Regions from separate parts of the Homo sapiens genome. Here region 2 is linked to region 1. Evidence: fine-mapped expression QTL. Tissue or cell type: testis. Region 1 holds a variant in brackets; the other region holds the start of a gene. All regions are shown on one strand. Distances are between the middles of the regions.

Region 1 (5,725 bases):
GTCAAAGAGGATACTCCATAGCAGTTCTTTGAGCATGGGATCAACCTGCATCTTTCTCAAGCTGCATAGATTTCAGTATCCACACCCATAAAATCAACAGAAAAAAACTGCTTTCAGATTCCCTGGCATCCTGGGGCATGGGTGGGTAACACAGCAAAGCTGAGCAGGAGAAATAGGAGGAAGACAGGGACTATCAGACAGATGGGATTGAAATTGTAGACCATGATTACAAATTAGAAAGCTGAGCCCAAAATGTCACAAATGTTAGAATTAGCAGTCCATAGGAACTGGGTTTAGGACTGACTCTCTTTACTCTGCTCCTTTTTGAACTACCAGAGGTGCTGGGAAAGGGAAGAAGGGTAGGGATGAATCTGGAGAAAACGAGCCTTGGCTATGGCCAACATGAGATCTGATTTCCTACCCTCAGTTAAAGTGGGAAGAAAAGGCTCTACATATGTATACATGTGCCATGTTGGTATACATATGTAACAAACCTGCATGTTGTGCACATGTACCCTAAAACTTAAAGTATAATAATAATAATAATAAAGGCTCAACTATAGGTATTTACCAAGCACCCTGTATGGAAGGACACAAACACAGTTCCCCATCACTGGGTTCACGTGCTATTGGCAAGAGCTGCAAGAAGGACAAAAAACCAAACACCGCATGTTCTCACTCATAGGTGGGAATTGAACAATGAGAACACATGGACACAGGAAGGGGAACATCACACCGGGGCCTGTTGTGGGGTGGGGGGAGGGGGGAGGGATAGCATTAGGAGATATACCTAATGCTAAATGATGAGTTACTGGGTGCAGCACACCAACATGGCACATGTATACATATGTAACTAACCTGCACATTGTGCACATGTACCCTAAAACTTAAAGTATAATAAAATAAAAGAATTACTTACCTTGTCTCACATATTAAGACTGAGGCAATACTTAATGCCTCTACAAAATGGCTTAAGCTCCTCAGATAAAAGAAGGTATAGAAATGAAGAAACATTTAAAACTGATAAAACTCTTCTGTTCAAAGCATGAAGTAGGCTGAAAAAAATGAAAAAAACTGTTATGTTGATTAATCCTTCAATGCACAATGTTATGCCAACAGGATGCAGATGATGCAGATGACATGAATGTTTTTCCTTCGCCTCAAACAGGGAGTCAAGTCGGAGAAGCAAGCATGAAAACAGAAACTAACCTTAAGCCAAAGCACAGGCCCTTAGCAATATTACTATATGCCCACCAGTCACCTGCCTGTGGAAATGAAATCATAACCATTCCCCTTTGCCCCGCTTCCTCTGTCACCCATCACAGACTGTGAGTACTGTCACAGGGGTATGAAACAGCAAATAATGACGCTGATACTTTTCTTACTGCCTCTTAAAGACAACCACTATTCATGGAACAACAGTTTGTAAGCTCAAAGTAATGATGGACAAATTGATTAAGAGATGCTTAATCTAAGGATTAGCATTCAGCCAAATGCTGCTTAACATAGCCAACAAGGATTCAAAAGCGGAAACAGCTGTGTTGTTCAGGAATTTGTTTGTAATAAAAGAGTAATTTTTTGCCAGTAAAATTCGGCATTAGTAAATCCTTTAGCATCATCTCTTTCTTGTTGGAATTCCCAAGCTGGAAACTTCCTGCGATCAATATTCTAAAGACATGGTTCCTGGGTCTGAGAGGGAGGCAACAGCACTATAGACATCAGAGAATTCTGGGCTCCATCCCTTCCTAACAAAGAAGCTGTCTGAATTCTCTTAGCCTTGGACATTCTATCCACAAAATAGGGCTGATAAGCAATACCTTACAGGGGTTGTTGTGAACAATAAATAAGCAATCATACATAAAGTTTCTAGCACTCTACGTAGGAGCTAAGAGGTTTTCAATCAATGTTTGTTCCTTGCCCTCCTTCCCTCATCTTCTAGGACTTCCAATATACTGTTTTAAACCTACATTTTTGGCAAGAAGAGCAAAACTCCGTCTCAAAAAAAAAAAAAAAAAAGCTACATTTGTTAGCCACTAAATTGTTTAAGGTAAATAAATGAAGCATTTGCTTTTTTTCAGAAAAGGAATTTTTTTTCTTTCGTTGTGTTTCACATCATATAAGCACCTTTACCAAAAAGCCTAAGAATGATGATGAGAAAAACAAAAAGCAGTGTGAGTATTTGTGTGGGCTCTTCCTGTAAATTAAAGTCATTCTTTTAGTAAGTTGAGGAGGGGACAAGAAGGAAGATGGAGGAGACAAAAATTAAAAAATTTAGGGATATCTATTATGTGATAGGCACTTAGTAGACATGTTATATAACATTATCTTTTTGTTGTTGTTTTTG[T/C]TGAGACGGAGTCTTGCTCTGTCACCCAGGCTGGAGTGCAGTGGTGTGATCTCAGCGCACTGGAACCTCCGCCTCCCAGGTTCAAGCGATTCTCCCACCTCAGCCTCCCGAATAGCTGGGATTACAGACACCCGCCACCGCACCCAACTAATTTTTGTATTTTTAGTAAAGATGGAGTTTCACCATGTTGGCCAGGCTGATCTCAAACTCCTGACCTCAGGTGATCAGTGCTGGGATTACCAGTATAAGCCACCGTGCCCGGCCAACCTTACCTGTTTAATAAATATGACTGTATCTTGACCCCTCTGTGACATCAAACCTCAGCTCTGCTCCTTGATAGTTGTGTGACTTTGGGCAAGTTACTTGACCTCTCTGTACCTTAGTCTCAACATTTGAAAACAAGGAAAATAAAGTGCATACCTCATAAGATTGTTAAAATTAGATGAGTTAAAACATATGAAACTCTTAGAACAGATCCTGGCACATAGTAAATATTGAATAAACATTAGTTGCTAATAATCATAATTATAGTGACAATAATATTTTAAAGCCCTTAACATCAATGGTGGCACATAGTAGATGCTCAAAAAATACTACCTGTTATTACTTAGACAATAAAAGTAAAAGATGATTTCTTTTACAAAAAAGCATTCTTTTTCATTAAGTTTATTCTCTATAGGAGCTGTCTCTATACCAAGCAGAAATATATGAACATCCACTCTTATTTTATTTTATAGATAATCAAATCAGAAGATAAATTTCTTGTCTCTTTATACAAAATCTCTTTTGGAGCCCATAGTGAGTTGGATAAATGTTTTGATTATCAGGCCATTAGGCAGAATTTCCAAGGATAGCAGTTCCTTAAGTCTCTCTCTTCCCTTATGCCCACTTACCCCCCAAAAATACCCACTCAGTGTCTAAGGGCCTCCAGGGAGGCATCTTCTCCATTTCTCACAGCCCCATCATCTCTGTCTCTTTCCTACCTCTCCAGCTCTTTACCTGTCACTCAGTGCACACTAAAATTCAGCAAAAGCAAACAACATGTGGAGCCCCACCCTCGCTATGCCTTCTCTCAGGTTCACTAACGTTGCTTTGTCTCTCTGTACCTGAATTGATCTGTCCTAGACCACAGGAGGCATTCAGTACAAGTTTACTGACTGAAGGATACTGAACTGCAAAAGAATCTGCATACCAAAGAAACTGTACGCCATTCAGACCTGGGCTCACCGCAAATATTTACTCTTTAATCATTTCTGCTTGTGCCTTCAATTAGAGGAAAATAATGCATGTGTCTTAAACAATTTTCAATATATGAGAGCAGAAATAGTTCCAGATCACCATATAAACAGATACAAAAGCAGCAAATCTCATGACATTGATGTGGAAGGCATAGAATTGTCTAGATACTTAGAATAATATTGAACATGGAGTCTTGATTGAAAATGGACTTTTTCAAACTATTTTATTTAATTAATTAATTTATTTATTTTTGAGATGGAGTCTCGCTCTGTTGCCCAGGCTAGAGTGCAGTGGCACAATCTTGGCTCATTGCGACCTCTGTCTCCTGGGTTCAAGTGATTCTCCTGTCACAGCCTCCTGAGTAGCTAGGATTACAGGCATGCACCACCATGCCTGGCTAAGTTTTGTATTTTTAGTAGAGCTGGGGTTTCGCCATATTGGCCAGGCTGGTCTCGAACTCCTGACCTCAGGTGATCTGCCCAGCTCAGCCTCCCAAAGTGCTGGGATTACAGGCATGAGCCAATGTGCCCAGCCTTTCAAACTATTTTACAAGTAATTCATCTACCAACTGAAGTGCCCACAATCCCAGGTGCTGTGACAAATGCAAAATATATGACAGATCTCTTTGTCCTCAAAGAACTTATGATACAGTTGTGGAAGGAAAAGATACATGGGAGGGCTCAGAATATTTTAATGCTAAACTGATGGTACTGAGAAAGCATCTCTTTAATTCTGAGAAAATGATTAGTTGGAGCTAAAATGAAAAAAGAATATAATAAAAAGTTCGGGTTCTCAAAGTACAAAAATACTGTAAAATTCACTTTAACCAGATTAATAACTTTCCCCCAAAATTTATAATTTTATACATTTTTCATGCAGGCTATAGAATACTTAAGCTGTGCTATACTATATCCTATATTCTTATGAATACTATTAAAAACATACATATTCACATGAGCTACAAAGCTGTAATTCAGCATTTCAACACCTATGACTTTCAAAAAATTCTAGAATTTTAGACCCGATTGTAATCATTTCCAAACTCAAACAGAGTCAAACTCTTCTATTTCTTTTTCCAGAAAGTTAAAAATACTTAATACATTAAAAACATGATGAATTTTTAGTTATTTGGGTTATCTACTTAGTCTGTGGATTATTCGGATTTCTTTCCTTTTTTTTTGTTTTTTGTTTTTTTTCTTTGAGACAGGGTCTCACTCTGTTGCTCAGACTGCAGTGCAGTGGCATGAACTTGGCTCACCGCAAACTGCGCCTCCCGGGTTCAAGCGATTCTCCTGCCTCAGCCTCCCAAATAGCTGGGATTACAGGTGTACACCACGACACCCAGCTAACTTTTGTATTTTTAGTAGAGATGGGGTTTCACCATATTGGCCAGGATGGTCTCAAACTACTGACCTCAAATGATCCACCCATCTCGGCCTCCCAAAGTGCTGGGATTACAGGCGTGAGCCACTGCACCCGGCCCTTCTTTCCTCTTTATAGAGAGCTTGCCTCACTTCTGCCCTTTATTTGTAAAGCACTTAGAAGAGTTCTTGGCAGGTAGTAAGTACTCAGTACCTATTACTACCATCACTACTGCTGCTATGACTATGAATATGACTACTACTACTACTGTGGCGTCTGCTACTTCTTTTACTGTTTCTACTCTTATTACTACTATTACTATTACTGCTGCTGCTACTATTCTATCTTTGTTCACTAGCACTTCCTTTACCAGAGGATTGGCAACATAAATAAAAGAACATGAGCCTTACCCTAAACCTAAGGGTTCTTAACTTGGCATCCAAAGACCCTTGAATATGTGAACTTGAATGGGGCAAGTTTACTTCTTTAGTTTTACTATCTGCTAATGTAATCACTGTAACATGAACAGTATCTATGACTCTGTCACTCTTAGAAATCACAGATATTTTCATCTCACTTTATAATTAATTGTTACAGAAATAGCACTTATGTTCATCAATACTTCTCACCACTAGATCTTGTTATTTAATGCATTAATAATGAAGGATATATATTACTATATCATATCTTTGAGATTTTTATCTTTTGATAGCCATATATAGAATATATAACTGGTTCCCTTCATAGTCTTATGTATTTCATTTTATTCATTTAAAAACA
Region 2 (5,306 bases), 150 kb after region 1:
AGAGTTAGTTATGTTTCTTTTGCGCTCCTGTAACATTCTATCATATATTTATAACTCATCACACTACATTTTAGCTATGGACTTCCCTGAATAAGTCCCCCATTAGAGTGAGAATGTGTCTTACTGATCGGGTTATTCAAGCAATATTTATTGAGCCACACCTCCACCCCTACACCACTAGTACTTGGCTGGAGGCTAGGGATACAACAGTGAACAGATAAAAATTCCTGCCCTTCTGGAATTAACATTCTAAAGGTGGAATCTATCTTCTTACTCACCTTTGTGGTTCCAGTGTCTGGCCCTTGATGAATACGATAAGGTTAGAAAAACAGCTGGGTCTAACAACTAGCCTTTTGAATATTTTCTTTTCAAAGGATCTTTTCCTTTATCTACGTTCCCTTTTAAATTTCTTCCATGTGTTTGTTAGTCAAATACTTCCATGTAGTCTAAATGTACTATACCTAGACAAAATGTCTAAGCAAATTTCAATTTTTACATTTCCCTTCTCTCTTCTTCCATCCCTTTCTGTTTCCTTATCATACATCTATTGTCCATTTCCCTTGAGACCAAGTACTTTCTGGCTGTCCAGAAGTACCATTAGGCATCCAACTTAGCACTTTCTTTTCCCAAAGTATCCCGGGTTCTAACTTACTTCTCCCCAATCTCCCCTGAAAACCCCTAAAGTCAGAGGTAGCTGGTCAGTAGCATCTTCCGTATTGAAGGCTTCACACTTTCTCTATCCCTACCCAGTGAGAAAGGCCCTCCTCTGCGCTGTTTCCCCTTGCCATGGCACCTATCAACCTGCATGACAAACACTGATTCTCTTGCCTGGTTCTTCCTTAAGGAACCTTGGGTTTAATTCTTCTTTTCATTCCTGGTACTTTCCAGGTCTACAACAGTTCAATAAATTACTAATAAGGAATAAATGAGTAAATAAATATATATTGTATACTTATATATCCTCTCCCCCTGAATTCAGCTGTGGGTATGACTTAAATCCAAGAAATTTTGGATTAAAATGAGAGTTACCAAAAAAGGCAGCTTTGACCCAAGGAAAACTTGTTTCTTTAAAAATGTTAGAAGAATTTAAATTTTTAAAATGTGTTTTGGCCTGGCAGGATGGTTCACACCTTTAATCCCAGCACTTTGAGAGGCTGAGGTGGGAGGATCGTTTGAGGCCAAGAGCTTGAGACTAGCCTGGGCAACAGAGCGAGATCCCATCTCTACAAAAAATAAAAATAAAAAATTACCTGGGTGTGGTGGTGTGCATCTGTACTCCCAGCTACTCGAGAGGCTAAGGCAGGAGGATCACTTGAGCCCAGGAGGTCGAGGGCTGCAGCCATCTACAATTGCACCACTGTACTCCAGCCTGAGACACAGAGTGAGACCCTGTCTCAAAGAAAAACAAAAAAATGTGTTTCGATATCCGCGATCCATGTCACATCTGTTAGTGTACCTTTAGTACATGACTTCTGCATTGTTTGCTAACTGACATTCTGTGTGAATAAAGCGTGTATCACAATGGTGTTTCCGTATGTTATCCAAGTGGGTCCTTTCCCCAGGATGTGAGTGAGCCTTTGGCATGGTCTTTTTAAGATTTTGCCAAGGGAAGACTGGGCTGGAACTAAGGAGCTAACATACCATTGAAATCAAATATCCCGTTGGGTGCACTGGAGGGTAGAGAAGAGGGGATTCCTGCACTCACGCTAAATGATAAACTTTTCCAAGGGCAGGGTCGTGAGAGGTCTTCCAGGTCACCTAGTGTTCTGAGTCATGCAGAAGTAGGAAATGGACACAATACTCCCCGCAGAGAATCCTTCCCACAGGACTGATCCTGTCCCTTCCTCCCCTCCCCCGCCCCACACAAGGCGGAATCCCCACGCAGTGCACTGCAGGCGCGGTGGCCACTGCCCCTAGAACCAGATCTCTCCCCCAGTCCCGTCCTCTCCAAGCTCCAGATATGTCAAGGATTCTTAAGCAGGGGTTTTCCAATCTGTCCCTTGAGGAACTACCCCTGAGGCAAGGCGGGCAGGCCCAAGCTGCGATGTGGAGAATTCGATGTCCGAGCGACCTCCTCGGAGGAGTGGGTCGAGTTAAATATAACCGCGCGAATGGAATGGCGCTAAAAATAAGGCAGCAGCTGGCCTGTCCACAGCCCTGTCCCGGGAGGGGCGGGGGCCCCAGTGGTCTTGGGCAGGAAGGCCGCGTCCGGCCCAGGGGCGAGAAGGCTGCGGCGTCCGCAGCCAGGGCTGGAAGGCCTGGGAGGCCGCGCTCTGTGGGCCCCGGGGCCTCCATTCGGGCTGGGTCGCGGGCCTGGACGGGGACTGTCCAGAGGCATCCGAAAGCCAGGCCAACTTGCCTGGACGTAACAAGACGGAAGGGCTGGGCGCTGAGGTCCTGCCAGCCCGGCCGCCAGAGGGAGCTGAGCGCCAGAGGAGGACAAGCCGAACCCTTCAGGAGGCCGGGCGTCTCCGGAGACCGAAGCGCCGGAGGACCCGAGGAGGTCTGCCCCGCGCGCTGCTCTGGAGACTCCCGGGGCGGGTGGCGCTCGGCCTTTCCGCTCCCTTCCTTCCCACAAGTCCCTTCCCGCGCGCGCCCCACGGCCCTGCCCGCCCTCCCGCGTCAGCGCCCCAACCGTCAAGCCAGCAATTGAAACGTTTCCAAAACGGTCTATTTATTTGCTCCCAATAAATCGATCGGCGGTGATTAAAGAATCGATGTGGCCTGGGTGGGCGAGTCGCTTGAGGGGAGGGATTGGGGGCTTTCGCCCGGCGCCTGCAGGGAGGCCGAGGGCGGGCGCGGGCCTGAGGGAGGCGTGTCCCGCCCGGGCCACACCCGAGGACCCGACACCTGGGCTGGCAGGCCCCGGCAGGCAGCGTTCCCTCCGGCGGAGAGGGGCGCGCGCCCGCCGCCTGCTTTCCTCGGCCCCTCTCGCCTTTCTCGCGCGCCGGGGAGGCTGTGGCCGCCAGTGGCTGCGGAGCTGCTCAGAGGCTTTTGTTGCTCCTCGGCCGGCTGAATGGGGATTTTGTAAAGCGGGACAGATAAAAATGAGCAGCATCATATTGTTTGACAGAATGATCTCGCATGATGAAGTGTCGGCTCCGAAGGGGGTGAAAATGGTGAATTCCTAAAAACCCAGCCCTGGGCTCCTCCTCGAGCTGCCGGTAGCCTGGAGGGACCCAGCGGACAGCCGGGCCTGGCCGCATCGCTCCAAACGGTGTCAGAAAGACTCCGGCTTTCAATGCCAAGTCATTTTTAAGCCCCGATCCTGTCCAGGACCTTTCTCCTCGTGGATGAAAAGAACAATTTTCGAGAGAAAGGCTCGTTTTTATTAAATCCGACATGCTGCTGATAACTCCATGCTAATGTGAAATAATTAACATAATAGCCATAATTAAAAGCACGCTAACAATGCCATAAATTTATCACACAATTTTACTAGCTTTCTGCCCCTAACTGCTCTCTCATCGTTAATTAAACGTGTTGCCTTTTACAGAATGGATGTTTATATATTTCCAATATAAATAAATTCGAAACCATCCTCTCTCTCTTCCTCTTTCTCTCCTCCTTTCCTTTTGGTCTCTCGCCATTTACAGGCACGCCTTGGCGTGGACCCTGAGTGGCAGACATCTTGAAAATAAATGAAGTTTTGAGATGCAAATCCAAACAAGAACATTAAAATAGCCTCTTTTTTTCCACCCCGAAAAGATCCGGAGAGGTATACAAGGGGGTAGTGGTGGGTAAGAGAGTTGAAAATCCCCCGCTTTGGGAAATGGAAGTAATCTGGGTGGGTTGGGGCCTTGGGTACCACCTCTGCCCTTTCCCACCTTCCTTGGTGGCGGCCATCCAGACAAAGAGGCCGGTAATAGTTTAACAAATCTATGAAGATTTTCAAGAAGCAGCAGACTTTGATTGTTGCGGGCGCGGGGGTGTTGGGGAGAAAGGAGGGGAATTTTTCTAATAGTCCCACCCACGTTTTGCTCCCTCTTGGACAAAGAGTAACTACTCTTGGTGGGGGACGCGCCCTTCACTCCGCGGAACCTGGTCCCAACTCCCCGTATTGTAAGAAAAGTGCACCCGCGCGCGGGCATGATGATTCTATCTCACATCGCGCCAACGACTTATTCAAGCCACTGGCACTGTCTCTGACTTAAAAGAGGAGAAAAGAGGCATATGGGTTCACTTGGGCCTGGTGAGGGGTAGGTGGGCAATTCCCGCCTTCCGCACTCTAACCGTGCCCCTCCTCCAGTGTTGACCACCTAAGAACCCAAAATGAGCTGTAATTAATTTCCCTTTCTCCATCATAAATTTTTCTATCCATTTCTTCCCCCCCATCCCCCCACTGGACGCACACACTAAATCTCCCCTCCCCTGGAGACGTCTCAATTTCCTTCCTATCGATCCGGACTCCATTCTTCTTGCCTCCTGTTGCTAGAACCTAGATCCCCACTCCCCGCACCCCTCATTCCCACCGCGTCCAGGTGGCTTTCCCAGCGGGGTACCATGTACTCTGCCCGCTCCAGAGGAACCGAAGGGGTTTCATTCCATTCTCCTTTGGTTGAAACATTTCAAACATTTGAGCAGGTGAGGCAGCTGGCTGCCATCTTCCTTTTTAAATCTCTCCTGGGAAGTTCGCTTGTTGAGACTCAAAGAGTCACTCAAACTCATAATTGCGTGTGTGTGTCTACTCATTCTCCCTCTATCTCTCCAATAACCCTTTGAGACTCAGAAACTTTTTATCCACATACACCCTTTATCACATTTTCTTCCCCCCACTACATGTGTCTCACTTTCTCTCTGTATCTGTCTCGCTTCTTCCGTCTCTGTCCTACAGCTTGGCGGTAACTGACGACCTGTGAGCTTTTAGCTGCAAACTGCAACTACGCGGCAAACAATTTATTTAGCCCGACATCTAGCCGGTCTCCGGCAGGACCCTGCACCGCGTCGGGATCGGACCCTTCCGCTGGGGCGGCCTCCTGCGTCAAGGCCAGCAGGAACCTTCCTGTCGCCCTCCCCGGCCGCCGCTTCGCCTCCTTCCCGCCCCCGGAGGTTGTGCAGGCGCTATGGTCCGCCTGGAGGGAGAAAGCCGGCGGCCGGTTCCTGAGCCGAGAGCGGCCGCGGAAAAATCCTCTGCCTCCGCTGGAAATCGATATTAGGCCGGCGCGGGCGCGGGACGTCGGGGCCGCAGCCAGTAGGTTGTGCACGTCTCATCATTTAGCTAATCGAGTCGAAAAGTTTCTGTAAGGGCCGGACCCAGCATCAGATGGTAACACTGATTGAACAAGAGATTAGCACAATAGATCTCT

Alleles and levels. Positions count from the first base shown, and alleles are read on the strand shown. Sizes are in standard deviations (SD) of each study's normalised expression.
For the expression in testis of the gene that starts at base 2,559 in region 2, T is the low allele of the variant in region 1 and C is the other (small effect, 0.14 SD a copy in GTEx).

The links. PIP is the estimated chance that this variant, and not a neighbour inherited with it, causes the effect.
Region 2: it holds the start of LINC00466, and the variant in region 1 is fine-mapped to the expression of LINC00466 in testis (GTEx, PIP above 0.99).

The regions. Positions count from the first base shown.
Region 1 is chr1:63,161,628-63,167,352 of GRCh38, forward strand. It overlaps LINC00466 (long intergenic non-protein coding RNA 466), which reads right to left. Exons shown (of 12, transcript NR_038252.3): 8 at 2,617-2,728; 9 at 920-1,055. Among named protein-coding and RNA genes, the nearest start is that of LINC01739, 150 kb to the left of the region's middle. The variant T/C (reference allele first, on the strand shown) is at 2,345.
Region 2 is chr1:63,314,699-63,320,004 of GRCh38, forward strand. It overlaps LINC00466 (long intergenic non-protein coding RNA 466), which reads right to left and starts at 2,559. Exons shown (of 12, transcript NR_038252.3): 1 at 2,360-2,559; 2 at 1,251-1,389. RefSeq lists a silencer at 2,705-2,884.